Linked DNA regions of Homo sapiens. The protein of the gene in region 5 purifies or fractionates together with the protein of the main gene of each other region. This does not show direct contact. Each region holds a gene or a part of one and is shown on either strand. Other genes may lie near its edges. The genes, in order: FNDC3B, OSBPL8, SNX14, FNDC3A and OR1M1.

What was found.
Region 1: the proteins of OR1M1 (region 5) and FNDC3B purify together in Homo sapiens (affinity purification with mass spectrometry; one large-scale study listed by BioGRID and IntAct). This does not show direct contact.
Region 2: the proteins of OR1M1 (region 5) and OSBPL8 purify together in Homo sapiens (affinity purification with mass spectrometry; one large-scale study listed by BioGRID and IntAct). This does not show direct contact.
Region 3: the proteins of OR1M1 (region 5) and SNX14 purify together in Homo sapiens (affinity purification with mass spectrometry; one large-scale study listed by BioGRID and IntAct). This does not show direct contact.
Region 4: the proteins of OR1M1 (region 5) and FNDC3A purify together in Homo sapiens (affinity purification with mass spectrometry; one large-scale study listed by BioGRID and IntAct). This does not show direct contact.

Annotation. Positions count from the first base shown.
Region 1 is NC_000003.12:172,346,683-172,351,035, reverse strand, and holds part of FNDC3B (fibronectin type III domain-containing protein 3B), read right to left. Parts: intron 3,825-4,353; coding exon 3,675-3,824; intron 1-3,674. UniProt on the Homo sapiens protein: May be a positive regulator of adipogenesis.
Region 2 is NC_000012.12:76,391,916-76,396,268, reverse strand, and holds part of OSBPL8 (oxysterol-binding protein-related protein 8), read left to right. Parts: intron 1-1,539; coding exon 1,540-1,624; intron 1,625-3,516; coding exon 3,517-3,688; intron 3,689-4,353. UniProt on the Homo sapiens protein: Lipid transporter involved in lipid countertransport between the endoplasmic reticulum and the plasma membrane: specifically exchanges phosphatidylserine with phosphatidylinositol 4-phosphate (PI4P), delivering phosphatidylserine to the plasma membrane in exchange for PI4P, which is degraded by the SAC1/SACM1L phosphatase in the endoplasmic reticulum.
Region 3 is NC_000006.12:85,545,181-85,549,533, reverse strand, and holds part of SNX14 (sorting nexin-14), read left to right. Parts: intron 1-1,157; coding exon 1,158-1,233; intron 1,234-1,983; coding exon 1,984-2,028; intron 2,029-2,136; coding exon 2,137-2,217; intron 2,218-2,307; coding exon 2,308-2,422; exon of another isoform or gene 2,423-2,450; intron 2,451-4,353. UniProt on the Homo sapiens protein: Plays a role in maintaining normal neuronal excitability and synaptic transmission. May be involved in several stages of intracellular trafficking. Required for autophagosome clearance, possibly by mediating the fusion of lysosomes with autophagosomes.
Region 4 is NC_000013.11:49,202,460-49,206,812, forward strand, and holds part of FNDC3A (fibronectin type-III domain-containing protein 3A), read left to right. Parts: intron 1-697; coding exon 698-825; intron 826-4,353. UniProt on the Homo sapiens protein: Mediates spermatid-Sertoli adhesion during spermatogenesis.
Region 5 is NC_000019.10:9,089,398-9,093,304, forward strand, and holds part of OR1M1 (olfactory receptor 1M1), read left to right. Parts: intron 1-3,834; 5' UTR 3,835-3,847; coding exon 3,848-3,907. UniProt on the Homo sapiens protein: Odorant receptor.

The DNA.
Region 1 (4,353 bases), on a different chromosome or scaffold from region 5:
ATACAGAGTATGTGTTCAATAAATGTTATCAAAAAGATTTTCTTTCTTACAAAGAGAAAAACATTTGGCAGCTTTCTTACAAAAGTGAATGTACTCTAAAACTTAGTTTTCATTTAGCTTATTGGACAGCTTATGAGGTTGAATTACAAAACTAAAGGAGTTTGAGTTTTGTTTTGTTTTTTGTTTTTGAGACAGGGTCTGTCTCTGTCTGGAGTGCAGTGGCGCAATCTCAGCTCACTGCAACAACCTCTGCTTGCCAGGCTCAAGTGATCCTCCCACCTTAGCCTCCTGAGTAGCTGGAACCACAGGCACATACCACCACACCCAGCTAAGTTTGAGCTCTTAAATCAAGGTCTAAAACAAAACTTATAACTCCTTTGTTAATTTCAAAGAAGCAGGCTTAAAGCATTTATTTGCTATTAAATCACAGTTGAAACTCTACTGCAACATTTTGTCATACCCACTTCTGTTTCATTACAATACCTCAATACCTCAACTCTCTTTCTGGAAAAATTTTAACATGACAAATTATTTTATAAGTATGTATTTCGAGATTTTGGTACTGATATAAATGTATCACAGGGGCAGAAAAATAGGATATCATGGAGCCCAATGTTTCTATCAACTAGGGCTTTGTATCACCATATCACAGAAGGACAAGAACATGGCTTTTAAGAGTTGAAGCTTAGTTCAAACCTTGATTCCATCATTTAACAACTGTGTGATCTTAGGTTAGTTAATTTCTCTGAGCTTGTTTCCTCAGCTGTAAAATGGGGACAGTAATGCCTAATTCATAGAATTACAGTAAAGATTAAATCGGTTAATATGTAAAATGCTGGCAGAGTATCAGGCCAACAGTAGGAGCTACACTTTCTTCCTTCCCACTGGGAAAATTATGAACAAAATAGTATTTTCTCTATTTTTTCAAACACCTTTTTATTGTGTACTACTTTTATACTTACAGAAAAGTTGCAAAAATAGTACAGAGAAATTTCTGTCTATCTCCTACTCTGCTTTTCCGAAGAGAAACATGTTACAGAACTATAGAATAATGATCAAAACCAGGAAATTATCACTGGTGGCCGGGCACGGTGGCTCACACCTGGAATCCCAGCACTTTGCGAGGCTGAGGCGGGTGGATCATCTGAGGTCGGGAGTTCGAGACCAGCCTGGCCAACCTGGTGAAACCCCATCTCTACTAAAAATACAAAAATTAGTCAGGCGTGGTGGCAGGCGCCTGTAATCCCGGCTACTCGGGAGGCTGAGACAGGAGAATCGCTTGAACCTGTGAAGCGGAGGTTGCAGTGAGCCAAGATCGCGCCACTGCACTCCAGCCTGGGTGACAGAGCGTGACTCCATCTCAAAAAAAAGAAAAAAAAGAAAAGAAAAACATTATCACTGATACTATACTATTAACATACAGACCTAATCAGAATCTTACCAATTCTTCCAATGTTCTTTTTCTACTGCAGGATCCTACTTTCTTTTTAACTAGCTTGGCTCTATGGAAAACATTTCTTGATTTACACCACTTTTTATTAACAGTTTTCAAATGAAATTTAATTCAAAATCAACTTTTTGTAAATAATAGTATGCCTATAATATACAACATGCCCTATGAATGGAATTACGTTGGTACTTAATTAAAACAGTCCTGAAAATACAAAAATTCAAAAATTCCTGAGCAAAACAAGAAATGTTCCACCACATTTCTATAAAACACAGTACAGGTATTATAATAAATTTTTATTTTTTTGAGACAGGCTCTCACTCTGTCGCCCACGCTGGCCTACAGTGGTGCAGTCACAGGTCACTACAGCCTTGACCTGGCTCAAGTGATCCTCCTGCCTCAGGCTCCTGAGCAGCTGGGACTACAGATGCCTGGCTAATTTTTGTATTTTTTTTTTTTGTAGAGGAGGGGTTTTGTTATGTTGTCCAGGCTAGTCTCTATCTCCTGGCTCAAGAGATCAGCCGGCCTCAGCCTCCTACAGTGCTGGGATTACAAGTGTGAGCCCCCATGCCCGGCCAATATTTAAATTCTTAAGTGCCATATATTCAAAAAATATTGGGGTTTAACTTGACTTTGTAATCATGTTGAATGAAAATAATTCATATTTGGTCCACAAATAACAATAAATTGGTATAGTTTGAACAGACCCCCTTCCTGGCAATAGTCCTTTAGTGTGGCAATGGTAATCTTAAAAGTAGTACTCCCTTCATAAGATCTGACTCATTTTATTATAAATAAGCACAGACCTTTGAAAATATATTTCTACTCCTGTTAATACAACGAGGCAAGATTATGCAGGTACTATTCTTATTAATGTATCTTTTATAATGCAGCTTTGGGAAGTCAATGCTAAGACAACATAGACTCTGAAAGAGAAGGAGATATAATAACATTTTAAAGAAACACCAAAACTCAAAAACCATAATGGAGTGAAGCTCTTTACTGGGGTGGCAGACAGCTCTTTATTTATATCCTGCCTTGGTAGAAAAACAAGAGTGTGGCACATAATTTAACCTTTCCCCAGTGACTCAGCATCACTATTATAAATATCAGACAATTTGCTGTGACACTGACTCATTGTCAAAAGGTTAATTATGTCCCAGGTGCTTCATTCGAGAAGCAAGAAAGGTGTATAACAAAAGAGTTTAATCAGAAATGTTTCAAATACAGCAGACTTCTGAATTTAACAGAAATGCTTCAGTTGATCTGAAAAATTAAGTTATGAAGCGAATATTTTCTCCAAAGAGACCAGAGACATTGGGTGTACTTATAATAACGAATTTGATCCATGACTTAAATCAGGTGGGAACTTGACTTTGGCATCTTTGCTTCTTTATCTATTCAAATCTAAATGTGTATGAAGACAGAGCTCTTCAAGGTCAACAACCACATCTGATTAATCTTTGTATCTCTCTTCCTGATCTTCCTTTGATCCTGGTACAAAGTACTATAATGCTCAAGAAATGTTACTGAACAAATGGAAAGAGGAGGACAAAGAACTCTATTTTCTCAAGAGACTAAGGCTTTACACAGAAAAAATAATAATATAGCCAAGAGAGTAAAATAAAAGTAAACCCATGGTTATTGTCACTCTGAGGGGTTAGGCTATGAACCAATTTTTCTTGATGTTATTCTATCTGGACTCCCAAGTGGAAGCTTATAGATAACCAGCCTTGATAACCGTCACTGGGAGGTGGGAGGTGGGGTCCTGTAATCTAATGCAGACTAGTCCAGATTATTTTTGGCTCCATTTAACAGCTCGTAAAATAATTTTCTGTCTTTTACCAGTTCTAAGAGTCTTTCCCACTGAAATGTACATCTCAGGGGAATGAGACAGAAGGCTCCTTCCCTAAGGAGCTGTGTCATCTTTCCCTTGGACTTGGGTCATTTATTCAGCAAACTGATGAACAGACAAGATACAAGGGTGGTGAGAAGCAGAATGGAGAAGAATCTTATTTTGTTCTTAAGTTTCAGAATTTCCTAGAGAAGTGGAAATTAACTGCAAAACACCAAAACAACCAAATATATTTTTATTTAAATGGACTCTTTTTTTCCATATCATCCCTCCTGACAGCCTCCACCACAAGCCTTTGAGTGGGTTTCCCAAAGTGCCTTTCATGGGACAGCAGTCCTTGTGAGTAACATCTGAATAATGTCAACCTACCTGTAGTCTACAGCAATACTGTGCAGCAGGCAACAGGTCTCTTATTTCAAAACGGGTGTCTGTCCCATGATAAATGAGTTCTAAGGATTCTTCATCTTCTCCCCATTCCAACCTGTACTCTGAGATGTCAGCACCAGAACTATCAGGACTCTGGAAAGGCAGAAATGGAAGTAGTTAATAATGCCACTGAGAAGAGAATCCTACTGTGCTTGTATTCAATTAACTAAAATGGGAAAGAGAGCAACATGCCCCAGAATATTTCAAATACATATAAAAGAAAGGCACGATCACAAATATATATACCTACTATGTACCCACAAAATTTTTTTTGAGATTTAGAAATTTAAAAATAAAATAGGGCCAGGTGCGGCGGCTCATGCCTGTAATCCCAGCACTTTGGGAGGCTGAGGTGGGTGGATTGCCTAAGATAAGGAGTTCGAGACCAGCCTGGCCAACACAGTGAAACCCTATCTCTACTAAAAGTACAAAAACTAGCCAGGCATGGTGGTGGGCACCTGTAATCCCAGCTACTCAGGAGGCTGAGGCAGGAGAATCACTTGAACCAGGGAGGCAGAGGTTGCAGTGAGCCGAGATTGTGCCACTGCCCTCCAGCCTGGGTGACAAGATTGAAACTCTGTCACACAAAAAAATAAAATAAGTAAAATAAAATAAAATTTTT
Region 2 (4,353 bases), on a different chromosome or scaffold from region 5:
TAATCGTTATTTCAGTAGTCGGGAGTCACAGCGAGAATACATTTGGGATCACCGAGTTAGTTCCATTCTGAGGTTAGGTGCTTCCTGCAGGGGAAAGAATTTAACCCCCCGAACCTCTGACATTTATATATTAAGCGATTCTCAAGTGGAGAAAACGACTTTCAAAACCTTTTTAAACAACAAAAAATATATATATAAACATACATATAAATACCATATATATACATATACAAAAATACTATATATACACACATATATGTATATATATATATAGTATTCTACTACTCTTAGGAATTGCAAGCATTAAAATAAATTTTTAAGCCATTAATGATTTTAATGTCAAATTTATAATATTTAATTCTTAATATTGGAAGAAGAGAGAAATCTGTATAATTATATAAATACTTCCCACAAGCAAAACCTACTTAGGATATTGTTTAAATATTTTAGAAGCCAGTGTTTGTGATTAAGAAATAGTAACAGCTATGAGTTCTTTGTGTCAGGTACTTGAATATTTTACATGAAATCATTTATTTAATTCTCATACCTATAAGGAGGATACAGTTTCTTCCCATTGTACACATAAAGAGATTGAACCCTGTTTTTCTAGCATGGAGCCATGATTGAAACCCAGGCAGTCTGATTCCATGTCCCACTATATACTGGTTTTAGGAACTGGCCCATAAATTGTAAAGCTATTTGAAAATGCAGATTATTACGGTATTTGTTAAAGTCATATTAAATTTTTTTTCTGTTTTCGTTTTGAATCTACATCTTTACTTTCTAATGTTATGCTTTTTGGAAATTTATTTCATTTTTTGACCTAATAACTTTAAAGAACCCTTTGAAAACAACTTAAAAATTATGCTTTTGTATCAAAATTATACTTTAAATTCAGTACTTAGTTTTCTTTCCAGATTCGTGTCTACCTAAGTTTAGCATTGGTGATACTAATTAGTGTTGGTATTGTATACTTCTAAAACAAACAACCCTAGCCAACAACAACGACAGAATTTCTTTTTCTTTCATGTTTCTGGAAAAATAAAATCAGCTTATATAGTTGGTGTTTAAAAACAGGTGTATGTCATTGGTTATAAAGTGGAGATTTATTTTTCCCTAGACCCAGTTAAAGTTCATTTCTCTTTTTTTAAATTATAATTCTATTTCCACATGCTTTCTTTAGCCTTCTAGAAATTTAGTATTTCTTATCTCATTAGTTGTATCCATGGGATGGACATTGTTAAAATTTGGTTTAATATGGTAAACTTTAGGTTCTCTTTAGTATGTAAGCAGTATGTAGAGATAATATTTAAGTGATAATTCATTTGTTCAGTTTTCTGCTAAGGAGATATATTTGTTAGAAAATTTTTCTTAATACTTAACATTTGCATTCTCAAGAATGATGAAATTAAAGCTCATTTGCCTTTAGATTATAATCCATACCTGATTTAGATTATTACAGATAATATTGGATAGTGTAAAGATGAGATCTCATAATAATTACTCTATACCATTTATTTTGTTTATTTTGTTATTAAGGGTCCAAAAGGTGAAGCGGTTGGATCCATTACTCAACCCTTACCTAGCAGTTATTTGATCATCCGAGCTACTTCAGAGTCAGATGGTAAGTATAGTTTTTGATGGATTGGATTTTGGTCTTCATTTTTAAGAGTTTTTTTAATGCCACTTTGTATTATTCTGGGGAAATATATTTTTAGTATGGCATTTGCAGCAGAAGCATGGTAATCATAAATTGTTTTGAATGCTAAATATATGAGTAACTTAATAGACAAAAATCTGATAGAAAGGAAGCATTGTGTGATTTACTGAAGAGTTAGCAGTTCAGAGTTTTCTTCTTCATCCTCCATGGACATATTAACACCTTTTTATTTGTTAGTGGTCTTTATGGTACTCTTAAAGATATATTTAATACTTTTTATATTTTACTACTAAATGTTACCATTTATGAGACATATACATTGTTTTGGTTTTGTTTTTTTTTATGTAAGAGATTCGAGTACAACCTTTTTTATTCCTCCTTTAACACTTAATTCATGAAGCAAATATGGAGAGAGAAAAACTTAAATGATATCAAGGTAACTTTAAAATCTTAATAATTAATAATGGATTTTGTCCTCACTTTCATGCTTTCATGTTTCATAGTTTAGACAAGGTTGGTATAGGGAATCTTCTAACCTTCCAAAGTTTACTTTTATCTGATTTTTTTTGTTTTGTTTTGTTTTTGTTTTTGAGATGGAGTCTCGCTCTGTTGCCAGCCTGGAGTGCAGTGGCACGATCTCGGCTCACTGCAACCTCTGACTCCCTGGTATAAGTGATTCTCCTGCCTCAGCCTCCCGGGTAGCTGGGATTACAGGCACATGCCACCACGCCCAGCTAATTTTTGTATTTTTAGTAGAGACGGTTTCACCATGTTGGCCAGGATGGTCTCACACTCTTGCCCTCATGATTCGCTTGCCTCGGCCTCCCAAAGTGCTGGGGTTACAGGCGTGAGCCATCGCACCTGGCCTCAGATTTTTTTTTTTTTTTTTTTTTTTTTTGAAACGGAGTCTCACTCTGTCGCCCAGGCTGGAGTGCAGTGATGCGATCTCGGCTCACTGCAAGCTCCGTCTCCCGGGTTCACGCCATTCTCCTGCCTCAGTCTCCCGAGTGGCTGGGACTACAGGCGCCTGCCACCACACCCGGCTAATTTTTGTGTATTTTCAGTAGAGACAGGGTTTCACTGTGTTAGCCAGGATGGTCTCGATCTCCTGACCTCGTGATCCGCCTGCCTCGGCCTCCCAAAGTGCTGGGATTACGGGCGTGAGCCACCGCGCCTGGCCGATGATTTTTTTAAATTAAAATATAGGTATGAGCTTTCAATATGAAGATGCTTTACTTGGCTGATATTCCCAGCAAATCTTGAAGTGATATATATGAAAATTAAGAGCCCTAAACAAATATAAATGAAAAGTTTTCTGCTAATTCACTTTTAAATTTTTACTTAAAAAATAAAACTATTAATGTTTCTCTTAACTAATATGGCAGTTAATGGTAGCATTATGCAGGCATTTTCCTGACTTAAAAAGTTTCATACATACAAGTAGAATGGTTGTTAATCTTGAGGATAGACCTCCTATTAACAAAAACAGTTACTTCAGATAGTTTGTTTGTAGTAGAATCATAAATCCTCAAGTGTATTTTATGTACCTTGCTTGATACCTTCAAATTATACTGCATGTTAATGTTCTAAGATTTGAAAAATAAAGTATGTTTATTTTAGATTGGGTATAGTTTCTAATGCATGCTGTATACTATTCATTTATCAGTGGTGTGCTTAGTATGTGAAAAGCATTTGAAAAACGGAAAGATTTCATTAAATTCTAGCAAGATGTTATGTTCAGATTAACTTTTCCAGTGCATGTTTCTCAAAGAAATAGTGGTAACAGGGTAAGTTAAGATGCATGCTAGTTTCATAGTTTTAAAAATTATAGTGCTTATGAATCTGTGTTCTTTTAGGAAGGTGCTGGATGGATGCTTTGGAGTTGGCTTTGAAATGTTCTAGTCTTCTTAAACGTACAATGATCAGAGAAGGAAAGGAACATGACCTGAGCGTTTCATCAGATAGCACACATGTGACTTTCTATGGCTTACTACGTGCTAACAATCTCCACAGTGGTGATAACTTCCAGTAAGTAGATACTGCCGCTGAGTTGGTAATGTTTCAGAGACCATACTGTTCACAAAATTAGTTGGCAGGCCTAGAATTTTAGTAGTGTATCTAGGACTGAAATTTGCATATCTTCCCATTATATGGCCTAGGAACCGGCTTAAAATTTGTTTAGCTGCTATAATCAGGTGTAGAAATGTATTTCCTTGATTCCAGCCAACGTGATTTACTTTATCTTTCCCAAATATAGCCATGCTAATTATTCACCTTGTCTGTGCATGATGTCCCTTCTATTAAGAATGATTTCTGCCTACTCCTCCTTACGCTTTTCTCCTGTCTATATATTCTTCAAGATCAGTCTCAAATATTACATCATGTGTGAAACCTTATAACTATGAGACATAATCTGTCTTTCTATAGAGTAACATGTTTTTAGTAATGGCACTGGACTTAACTCTACCTGGTATTTGTGAAATTCATTTATATTTCTGTTTGGAATGGAACTGTATCCTATTTGTGGTTTTATTCCCTGAAGCATTTATTGTAGTTAACACTAAAAAAGCATTTCTCCAAGGAAACTGGGCAGTAGTGCAAAGACTTTCTTGAGATTCAGGTCTTTTTGTTGCTTTGCAGGAAAAACATTAGACTTTTCTATTTCCTCCCTGTCCCCACCCCTTGGCTTCTGC
Region 3 (4,353 bases), on a different chromosome or scaffold from region 5:
TTTGTGGTGTGTTGTGTAGCTTAGAATTTTTCTTTAAAACTGATCTTGGACATAAAATATAAATATGAATAAAATTAATTTTTTATGCCATTATATTTTATTTCATTGGTGTTCCCCTTTAAAGACATGCACATTATAACTATAATAGGCAGAAACATTTGAACAAACTATATAGATGAGTTTATGTTTCAAGGTATCCAGCTGGGAAAAAGAATTGGAGGTCATCTAGTCTGTTCTCCCTTTTTCTGGCTGGAGCATGTTTAGATTATTCCATAAGTTACCTTGTTACTCTTACCCTAATAACCCTTAGAGGAGTAACCATGGCTTATTTTTAGTGATATTTAAAGTGATGTACTTTAAATACTACTTTTTGTTTAAAATTTTTATGTGGTTCTTAAAAATATTTTAATATTTTGATTACATGATTTTTATACTAGACTAGTTTATAATAGTAAATATGATTATAAGGTAATTACATTAAACATTAATTTAAATATATAATAAACATTTAAGTATTCTTAGATAGAAAGTATTTTCTTTCTTTCTTTTTTTTTTTTAATTATTTTTGAGACAGAGTCTTGCTCTGTTGCCCAGGCTAGAGTTCAGTGGTGTGATCTCGGCTCACTGCAACCTCTGCCTGCCGGATTCAAGCGATTCTCCTGCATCAGCCTCCCTATTAGCTGGGATTACAGGCATGCACCATCATGCCCAGCTAATTTTTGTATTTTTAGTAGAGACGGGGTTTCATCATGTTGGCCAGGCTGGTCTTGAACTCCTGACCTTGTGATCCCCCTGCCTCGGCCACCCAAAGTTCTGAGATTACAGGCGTGAGCCACCCCACCCGGCCGATAGAGAGTTTTTCCTAATGTCCCCCAAGTTCCTCCTGTTAAGGGAATACTTTTTCTTCTCTTAAGTAATATTCTATTTTAGCCAAGTAAGAACTCTAACTCTTTGCTATTCAACGTGTGTTCTGCAAACCAGTAGCATGAACATTGGTTGAGAGTTTGTTAGAAATGCAGACTTTTAGGGCCTAACCAAGACCTACTGAATTATAGTCTCCATTTTAACAAGATCCTTACGTAATTCACATGCACTTGAAAGTTAAGAACTAATATAAATCACTAAATATAAACAATTATTATTATTTCTTTTTCCAGATCTCTGACCTTACTTATAAGAGAGATTCTGTCTGGCTCTGTGTTCCTTCCTTCTTTGGATTTCCTAGCTGATCCAGTAAGACTTAAGATTTTTTTTTAAATTGTTACAAATTACACTTAATATAACATTTAGTATCTTAAACATTTTTATGTATATAGTCAGTGATACTGAAAACATTCATATTGTTGTGCAACCATCCCCATTCCCCATCTCCAGAACTCTTCATCTTATGAAATTGAAACTCTGCATCTGTTAACAATAACTCCTCATTCCTTCCTCCCTCCAGCCCCCCCTGGCAACCACCATTCTGCTTTCTGTCTCCATGAATTTGACTACTCTGGGTACCACATATAAGTGGAATCATAAGTATTAGTCTTTTTGTGACTGGCTTATTTCACTTAGCATAGTGTCTTCAAGGTTCATCCATGTTGTAGCATGTGTCAGAATTTCCTTCCTTTTCAAGGCTGAGTAATATTTCATTGTATGTGTATAACATGTTTTGCTTATCTGTTCATCCATTGATGGACACTTTGGATGCTTCTACCTTTGATCCAGTGAGATTTTGAAGAAACAAGAATGATTTAGAAATATTTTAAATGCCAAAATCAGAATAGCTTTTATTTGCCCATTTTCACAAAGGTTAAGAACCTGTTTTGTAGATGTAAAAAAACTCCTGCTGTAATACATATGTGCAGATTTTTTGCTACTGCTCCATTTATTTTTTCATTTTTCTAGAAACTTACATAATATGATACAAGTTATGAGAATTCTGGGGAGAATACAGTAGTGGAATTATTTTGACTTATGTTTATTATTTTCCACTAGGATACTGTGAATCATTTGCTTATCATCTTCATAGATGACAGTCCAGTGAGTATTGAATATATTAGAAAACACTTCAGATTGCATTGAATTTTGATTTTGTATGTCAAATCAAGTGGGAATTTTACTGAGTTAATAATTCTCTTTCTTTCAAAGCCTGAAAAAGCAACTGAACCGGCTTCTCCTTTGGTTCCATTCTTGCAGAAATTTGCAGAACCTAGAAATAAAAAGCCATCTGTAAGAATTTTCAGCAATAACACCTTTTTGATATAAACAATTTTAGAACTCATTTATATAGCTTAAACTTAATCTTTCTCTTATATCAAGGTGCTGAAGTTAGAATTGAAGCAAATCAGAGAGCAACAAGATCTTTTATTTCGTTTTATGAACTTTCTGAAACAAGAAGGCGCAGTGCACGTGTTGCAGTTTTGTTTGACTGTGGGTGAGGCTTACCTGTGTATTTTACGAAAGTAATTTTTAAACCTTTTAATGTATTTGAATATTTTAAATCAGATCTGATGTTGTGGTACCCATCTATCATTGTACTAAATTTCATATACTCGATTTCCTTTTTTTTTTTTTTTTTTTGTTTGAGGCGGAATTTCACTCTCGTTGCCCAGGCTGGAGTGCAATGGTGTGATCTTGGCTCACTGCAACCTCCGCCTCCTGGGTTCAAGCGATTCTCCTGCCTCAGTCTCCCAAGTAGCTGGGATTACAGGCATGTGCCAGCACCCCAGCTAATTTTGTATTTTTAGTAGAGATGGGGTTTCTCCATGTTGGTCAGGCTGGTCTTGAATTCCCGACCTCAGGTGATCCACCCACCTCGGCCTCCCAAAGTGCTGGGGTTACAGGCGTGAGCCACCGCGCCCGGCCATATACTTGATTTTCTAAGAGCATATGTGGGTTTCTCTCAAGTGCCCACTTCTTTCCAGATTGGGAAATAATCTGTCACTAACTTCATTCAAATCCTAGTAGCAGAAAAAAAAAATACTAAAAGTACAGTATAATGAAAATATATTAAAAACCCAAACTGTAGCCCATGTCAATATCACTTTTTCACAGTTTTTGTAAAGGATTGTTTTGACTAAATTATCAAATATAAGAATACCTCATTTTAATTATAAGCTCTGTAGCATTATAGATTATTGGATTTATAAGAAACTTTATAGACTGAAAATATTGTTTTTAATGCATTTAATTTCTTTTTAAAATATAACTTTAAAAATGAGGTATAATTTATATAGTGAAACACATGGAATTTAAATGTATAGTTTGATCAGTTTTGCATGTGTGTACATCCACGTAACCTGCATCTTTATCAAGATCTAGAACATTTATTTCCATCAGCCCAGAAAATTCCCTTAGGATCCTTCCCAAGAGATCCACTCTTTCCCCTACTCCTGCCAAAGCAATCACTGGTCTCATTTCTCTCAGCACAGATTAGTTTTGCCTGTATAATTTTTTTTATATAAATTGAATCACATAATATGTACTCCTTTGTGCCTAGCTTCCTTCACTCAGGATAATGCTTTTTAAAGTTCATGTATGTTTTTGTCTAAATAAGTAGTTTGGGCAAGGCGCAGTGGCTCATGCTTACAATCCCAGCACTTCGGGAGGCCGAGGCAGGTGGATCACTTGAAGTCAGGAGTTCGAGACCAACCTGGGCAACATAGTGAAACCCTGTCTCGACAAAAATACAAAAATTAGCTGGGCGTGTTGGCTCATGCCTGTAATCGCAGCTACTCAGGAGGCTGAGGCAGGAGAATTGTTTGAACTTGAGAGGTGGAGGTTGCAGTGAGCCGAGATCATGCCACTGCACTCCAGCCTGGGTGACAGAGTGAGACTCTGTCTCAAAAATAAATAAATAAATATGTAGTTTGTTCTTTGCTGAGTGGTATTCCATTGTATGAATGCATATATCTTTTAAACTTCATTATTAGGTGCAGACACATTTAAGATTGTTATATCTTCTTAATGAATTTATTCTTTTATCATTATAAAATGCTCCTCTTTTATCTTTGGTAATTTTTAGTCTTGAAGTCTGCTTTGTCTGATGTTAATATAGCCACATCATCTTTCTTTATATTTGAGTGTTCATTTGTATATCTTTTTCTATCTGATTGAAATGTTTAATGTATTTCTAGTAAGCAGCACATAGTTTCTCTCACTTTAAAAAAACCTAATTTAGTAATCTTTGCTTTTTAATTGGTATCTGTAGTACATTTACACGTGATATATTTATTATGTGTTTATTGTTAGGCCTTACATCTTGGTGTTTGTTTTATATTTGTCCTGTATATTCTTTGCCTTTCTTTTTCTCCTTTGCTGCCTTTCTTGAGGTTATTTTTTAGTATTTTATCTTTCCTATTTTTT
Region 4 (4,353 bases), on a different chromosome or scaffold from region 5:
GAGGGGTTCTTATTTTAAAGTGACTCTGGCAAGGGCTACACTCTATTTTTAGCTGAAAAGTCTATAAAGTTAATTGCTCTGAAGACTAATCACAGAGACTTCTAGAACCATATCCTAGATCATGTACTTAAACCTATCATTTGTTAAACAGCAGAACTCTTCTTGACTAGTCTTTCTAATAATATTGAGTTTCACTGAGTCATTTTTCTGTTTGCTCATCAAGTTTAGTGTCTCTTAGCTTTAAGAAGAGTGCTGACTATAAGCAGGGCACAGTGGCTCACACCTATAAGCCCAGTGCTTTGGGAGACTGAAGTGGGAGGCTCACTTAAGGCCAGGAGTATTGAGACCAACGTGGGCAACATACTGAGACCTGCCTCTCTACAAAAGAAATTTTGAATCAGCTGGGCATGGCAGCATATGCCTGTGTGTGTAGCTGCACAGGAGGCTGAGGCTGCATTGAGCTATGATCGCACCACTGTTGTCCAGGCTGGGTGACAGAGTGAGATCCCATATCTTAGAATACAAGAGTGCTGATTTTAACCTCTTTGGATGCAAATTTCAAAAATTCACTGATACTTATTTCAAGTTTATAAGTGGATTTTAAATATTTGTTGATTTTTATTAAGACAAGTGTCTGCATGATGTACCAAATTAAAAATCAAGTGGAACAGATATTATTTATATTTGTTTCCTACAGCCCCCAAAATAGAGAAAGTAAATGATCACATTTGTGAAATTACATGGGAGTGTTTACAGCCAATGAAAGGTGATCCAGTTATTTACAGTCTTCAAGTTATGTTGGGAAAAGATTCAGAATTCAAACAGGTATGTACCAAGATATTAATGTGTGGATGCATATTTTTACCCTTTTTTAATTTTTATGTATTTTCAGTGTAAGATTTGGCCATCTTTACCTTTTAATTCATAAATATTTATTCAGTATATATTATGTTCCAGAGATCTCAAGATTCCAAATCTTTTCAGTATGAACTACACTTGAACAGATTATTCATTTATCTGATAAGTATTCATTGAATTCTGTGCCAGGCACTCAGGATATAGCACTGAACAAAAAGTCCCTTGCCTCCATGGAGCTTACTTACATTCTGGTGGAAAAGAAGACACTATAAGCAAGTAAACATGACAATATATTGTCAGATATAAGTGTAATGGAGAAAAAACAAAATTGGATAAAAGAAATAGGGAGTGGAGGGGGAGGGCACTGAGTGTTATTTCATTTGGGGCACTCAGCTGACATTTCAGCATGGCCCAGAGGAGATGACTATGGAGAGAAGAGTGTTCCAAGAAGATACGCTGAGGCAGGAACATGCCTATTAAATCTGATGAACATAAAGGAGCCAATATGACTGGATGGAGAGAGCAAAGGGAAGAGTTGATAAGGTCGGATAGTTAATCCTAAGGGGCCTATAGGTGGTATGGAGTGACGTAAGGCATAATAGGCCATACTGTGGCTTTTACTCCACGTGAAATGAGAAGACAGTGGAGGATTTTGACCAGGGTATTCACGTGATCAGACACAACGTTGTTTTGACTATAGTGTTGAAACTACAGTAGGACAAGGGCAGAACTAGAAAGACTAATAAGGAGGCTTTTACAATAATAGTATTAATAATAGTCATAATGCAGTGCTGTAAATATGACATTAGGCATGAAGTTATAATGGAAACCTAGAGGAATTGTCACCTTCCTAGCCAAGAGGTTTCAAAGATAGCTTTCTGATAAAGCAAGAATAGCAGTGAGATAGAGTGGAGTGTTGCCAATGTTTGTTACAACTTTTAAAAAGAATAAGCTTTTATACCACTCCAAAGACTAATTAAATACCTATACATTTCACCTGATTTTCCCTTTTTCCTGTAACCTTAATTTTGAGGGCTTTTAAGCTGGGTTGTTTTCATTGTGTCTTATATTTTCCTCTTCCACTAAAAAAAAGATCCTTCATTTGTTTTATTCCAGTATTGTGCTATTGTAACCACTCTATGTAATATCTTAACTGAAATTACAAAAGATCCAAAGAGTCAGATTAAATCTGGCATGCAATTGTTTTTCTTTATTAAGCCATCTGCAAATTGACAGGATAATTAGATTTGAAATGTAATTTACAGATAAGTAGGTTTCCTTCTAAGGAGGAAGCAAAATTAATATTAAAGAAAATATAATTGTATTACACGTTTAAAGGAAATAGGGATTCCACATTTGAGTAGTATATGAATAACCTTAAGGCTTGTTTGAATGACTTTTCTTGGGTGTATAAACCTTCTGAAATTAGCTTGAGCAGGTTAATCTGTTTTCTTCAGTCCTGTATTTACAGTTACCTGTGTCTCTTCCTGCTTAGAGGTCTTCCCACATCTGAAATACAAAATTGAAAACTTGATCCCATCATCTTCCCTCCCAGTATCTCCTCTCCAACATCTTTACTTCATCAGTGTCATAGACACCAATATCATCTTGGTCTCCAAGCTTTAAATTCTTAGATGAATTTTTTTTTCCTATCAACTCTTAATCAGAATTTGTTTCTAAATCCATAAAACTACATCAGGGCCTCATCACTTTTTACATGTACATCAAGAGTCCCTGTCCTACTCAGCTCCCTTCAGTCCTTCACACAGCCTCACGATTAGGATTCCATAAACACTGTTTTAATGTCACACACCTACAGTGGTCCCTTTTGAATTAACCTAAATTTCCAACTAGTGTAATTAATGTATTCTTCCTCTTTGTACCAGATCTCTTATCACCCTCATGCCATTTGTTGAGGTTTTTCTTTCTTAACCTAATACTGCCAGGCTCATGGAATGGTATATGAAGACACATGGAAAGTATAAAGACAAAAATCATCTATTATATCCATAAGACAAATACATATTTTTAATTTTTACTCAATTTACTTCAGTGTTATGTATACAATTTTACACTACTTTATCATACAACATTCTGTTTTAAGTGAATCCTTTTACAGGTTGAAGCATCCCAAATAAAGTCCAAAATTCAAAATGTTCCACCCAAAATCTGAAACTTTTTGAGGATCGATATGACACTCAAAGGAAATGCTCATTGGAGCATTTCCAATTTCAGATTTTTGGGTTTGGAATGCTCAACTAGTAAATATGCAACTATTCCAAAATCAAAAAAATTGAAATGCTTCTGGTTCCAAGCATTTCTTATAAGGGATACCCAACCTGTACCATCTCCCAAACATGGATCATTTCTACATTCTATTCCCTGAAACATTATGCATCCTTAGAACTAATGTATAGTCACCATTTTCTTTCAGATTTATCTTAAAGCTTCTTTCAGTAAGTTCCTTTATATATTGTTATCAGCATCCACATTTTTATTTATTGCCAATAATTCACTAATTTAATGTCCTTTTATTAAGTACCTACTATATGCTAGATTCTGGAGACAGAAAAATGAGACAGAGATCTTACTTTACTTTGAGAGCAAAGCAATATGTAAAAATTTAGATTTACATCACAGGTACAATTGAGGCAGCTAAAAGTACTTGAAAGCCCCCATGTGTTGGTTCTTCTGACTTGTAGCCCACCAACTAACTGGAGAAACTCAACTGACAAGTCATTTAACCCTATGAACCTTGGTTTTCTCAATTACAGAATGAGTGGTGGGAGGTTGCTCATTATTGGAAATGATAGCTCCTACAGATTGAGCAGTGACTGCATGCTGAGCACTGCGCTAAGTGCTTTAACAAGCATTAGTTCATTTCATCCTCATAATTATCATACATGTTAACTACTAGTATGTCTGTTATACTAAGGTAGTTGGTCTAAAATCACATCTGGAGTGTGAAGTGGTAGAGCAGACCTTGGATGCCAGGGGTGAACAGTTCTAGTATATAGCTTCTTATTTATGCCTAGTGTTCCATTATTGGAACACTAAGCTTGTGGTAGTTATTTATATCTCACTGATCAAGGTTATTGCCAAGGTCTGATTTTTCACAAAAAAAAAATTTGCAACCTCTGGCATAAATGGGTTAATTACTAGCACATTCCTCTGAAAATCCGTGGAATTTCATTCTTTTTATTTCCCTTGTGAGGCATGGCAGAGGAGGTCCTATTTTCTGATTCTAAGTGATCTCCCCTCTCTGGTTTATACAGTGATTTGCCATAGGCACCTATAGAAAGCTCCCCTTATTCATTTTCCATTTCATTGTACAGATATGTTTGAAATTATATGGAAATTTATCAGTTATACAAAGACATAATGGGGGAAGCAAAAGTAGACACTATCCCTTCTTTGATGGAATGATTGCATTGAAAAATGACTTCTTACATTTGAGAAAAGCAAGAAAATGCTTGAGGACCGATTTTGCTTGTT
Region 5 (3,907 bases):
TTTCCATTGTGTATTTCTACCACATTTTTTTTTTTTTTTTTTTGAGACAGAGTTTCGCTCTTGTCACCCCGGCTGGAGTGCAATGGCACAATCTCAGCTCACTGCAACCTCCGCCTCCTGGGTTCAAGCGATTCTCCTGCCTCAGCCTCCCAAGTAGCCAGGATTACAGGGGCCCACCACTACGCCCGGATAATTTTTTGTATTTTTAGTAGAGACGGGGTTTCACCATGTCGGCCAGGCTGGTCTCGAACTCCTGACCTCAGGCAATCCGCCTGTCTCAGCCTCCCAAAGTGCTGGGATTACAGGTGTGAGCCACTGTGCCCTGCCTAAAGCCAACACATTTTCCAAAAATCCCTGGCTGCCTCAACAGTTTTCGGAGTGCTCTTACAATCCTCAGGGGTGCTGTGTGTGGGGTGTGATTCTCTATTAATCCAAGCTCCTCATAATCTGATAAATGCTGCCTGGAGTTCATCTCCCTCACTAAACTGTGAATTCATGAATCCATGCGTGCTTCATGAATTACAGAGATTAAGAGTACATGCTCTAGATTTAGAATGCTTGGGCTAATCCAGCCACCTGCTCTCAGTTAAACCCCATTTGATTGTATTAATCTTCTGTGCTTCCATTTCTTCCTGCATGAAATAGCACTAACATTATTCTGTTGTCGTGAGTAGCAAATTAGCAGAGACCTTCGATCAGTGCCTGGCAATACAGGATAACCATCACTGATTCATGCGTATATGGAACAATTATGTTTATGTCTTCTGTATCCCAGACAAGATGCTGGTCACAAAAATGAACAAAGACAAACAATTCCTGATTTCAAATGTCTTGAGGACAGGGTCTGTGTATTTTCATATATTTGTCCCCACAACTCAGGCCAGATCCTGTCACTATATATTGCAATTACCAATAATTTTTTACAAAATGAATGAACGAATGCGTGAGTGAATAAAAGTGACATCTGCAAGGTGTTCATTAGAAATCACAAAAATAAAAAATAAAAATATAAAAGTAACATGATCAGAACTGTAATGCAGGAAGATTAATTTAGTGACTTCAGGATTGTTTCTTTTTTTTGAGATGGAGTTTCGCTCTTGCTGCCCAGGCAGGAGTGCAGTGGCGCAATCGGGGCTCACTGCAACCTCTGCCTCAGCCTCCTGAGTAGCTGGGTTTACAGGCATGCGCCACCATGCCCGGCTAATTTTGTATTTTTAGTAGAGACGGGTTTTCTCCATGTTGGTCAGGCTAGACTTGAACTCCCGACCTCAGGTGATCCGCCTGCCTCGGCCTCCCAAAGTGCTAGGATGACAGGCATGAGCCACCGCGCCCGGCCGACTTCAGGATTGTTTCAAAGGAAGATAATTGGATGCATGAGGCTAGCTTAAGATTAGTGAACTTGGCAACTCAGAAGTAATAAGAGCCTTTCATTTAGGGTGTCTGGAAAGAGGAGATGACTGGAAATGACTATAAAAATAAAAAGTTCAGGACGGGCGCGGTGGCTCATGCCTGTAATCCCAGCACTTTGAGAGGCCAAGGCGGGCAGATCACGAGGTCAGGAGATCAAGACCATCCTGGCTAACATGGTGAAACCCCGTCTCTACTAAAAAGTACAAAAAATTAGCCAGGCGTGGTGGTGGGCGCCTGTAGTCCCAGCTACTCGGGAGTCTGAGGCAGGAGAATGGCGTGAACCTGGGAGGCGGAGCTTGCAGTGAGCCGAGATCGTGCCACCGCACTCCAGCCCGAGTGACAGAGCGAGACTCTGTCTCAAAAAAAACAAATAGATAAAATAAAAAATGGAAAGTTCAGGCTGGGAGCAATGGTTTACACCCATAATCCCGGCACTTTGGGAGGCCAAGTGTGGGCGGATCACCTGATGTCAGGCGTTCGAGACCAGCCTGGCCAACAAGGTTAAACCCCATTTCTTTTTTTTTTTTTAAATAGTATTTGCACCACAGGTGCTATTGTTTATTTTAATTCCAATTAATCAAGAATTGCCACACATGCTAAGAATAAAGCTGTTGGATGTGAACTAAGGAGCACGTTGCTATTTTATTTTAGTGTCCAGATACTCAGCTGGGTTAAACCCCATTTCTACTAAAAATACAAAAGTGAGCTGGGCATGGTGGCGTGCTCCTGTAATCCCAGCTACTTGGGAGGGTGAGGCAGGAGAATTGCTTGAGCCTGGGAAGCAGAGATTACAGTGAGCCAAGATCGTGCCACTGCACTCCAGCCTAGGCAACAGAGCAAGACCCCGTCTCAAAAGGAAAAAAAAAAACAAAGGAAGGAAGTTCGACTTGTAGAGGATGTAACACTCATTGATGGATTGCCTTTGACGGTGGAGGTAGAAAGGAGGAAGACTGAAAATTTCAAACACAGGTATCTGGAAGGATGGTGATTCCATTCATGGACATAGTGGCTCCGGGAGAAAATAGACTTTATTTTTTTATATGTTGAGTTTGCCATGTCAGGAAGAAAGAAAAGAGGGAAAGAATGCTTTGTATAACCCTATTATTATTGTTGTTGTTATTGAGATGTAGTCTTGCTCTGTCACCAGGCTGGAGTACCGTGGTGTGATCTTGGCTCACTGCAACCTCTGCTCCAAGGGTCAAGCAATCTTCCCACCTCAGCCTCCCGAGTACTTGGAACTATAGGTGTCCACCATCATGCCTGGCTTTTTTTTTTTTTTTTTTTTTTTTTTTGGTAGAGAAGGGGTTTTGCCATGTTGCTCAGGCTGCTCTTGAACACCTGCATTCAAGCTCTCTGCCCACCTCGCCCTCCCAAAGTGCTGTGATTACAGATGGGACCCATCGTGCCTGGCCCTAACATTTTTTAATTAATCAAAAAAGAAGAAGAGTTGCTATAAATACTTCATCCATGGTTTAAAGTGCAACCTATATATAAGCTGTTGTCAGGCCAAGTGCGGTAGCTCACACCTGCAATTGTAGCACTTTGGAAGGCCTAGATGGGAGGATCACTCAAGCTCAGGAATTCAAGACCAGCCTGGACAACATAGCAAGATCCTGTCTCCACCACACACAAGAAAAGATAAATAAGCCAGGCTTACTTATGGTGTGTGCCTGTAGACCCCGCTACTAGAGAGGCTGTGGCAGGAGGCTGGCTTGAGCCCAGGAGTTCAAGGTTGCAATGAACTATGATTGCACCACTGCACTCCCTCCTGGGTGACACAGCAAGACCCTGTCTCTAAAAAATAATATCTTTAGCCTGGCGTGGTGGCTCACGCCTGTAATCCCAGCACTTTGGGAGGCCGAGGTGGGCGGATCACGAGGTCAGGAGTTCGAGACCAGCCTGGCCAATATGGTGAAACCCCATTTCTACTAAAAGTACAAAAAATTAGCCGGACGTGGTGGTGGGCACCTGTAGTCCCAGCTACTCATGAGGCTGAGGCAGGAGAATCACTTGAACCCAGGAGGCAGAGGTTGCAGTGAGCAGAGATTGCACGACTGTACTCCAACCTGGGTGACAAAGCAAGACTCTGTCTCAAAAATATATATATATGTATATATACATAATATGTAATAATATATATAATATTTCTATTTTAGAGACAGGGTCTCTAAAGTTACAACACCGTACATGTGTGGAATATATTTACATATATTCTCTCTCTCTCTCTCTCTATATATATATATATACACACACACATATATATTCTATATATACACACACACACACACACACACACACACACATATATATATATACACATCTGGTCTCATAATTAGCCCAAATGAGAACTGGGATGTGATCGCATCTAACTTTCCAAAACCATCTCCCTGTCATTCCTATAACCTCCCCTTTCCATACTTCCAGAGGAATCACACCCATGGAACCAAGAAACCAAACCAGTGCATCTCAATTCATCCTCCTGGGACTCTCAGAAAAG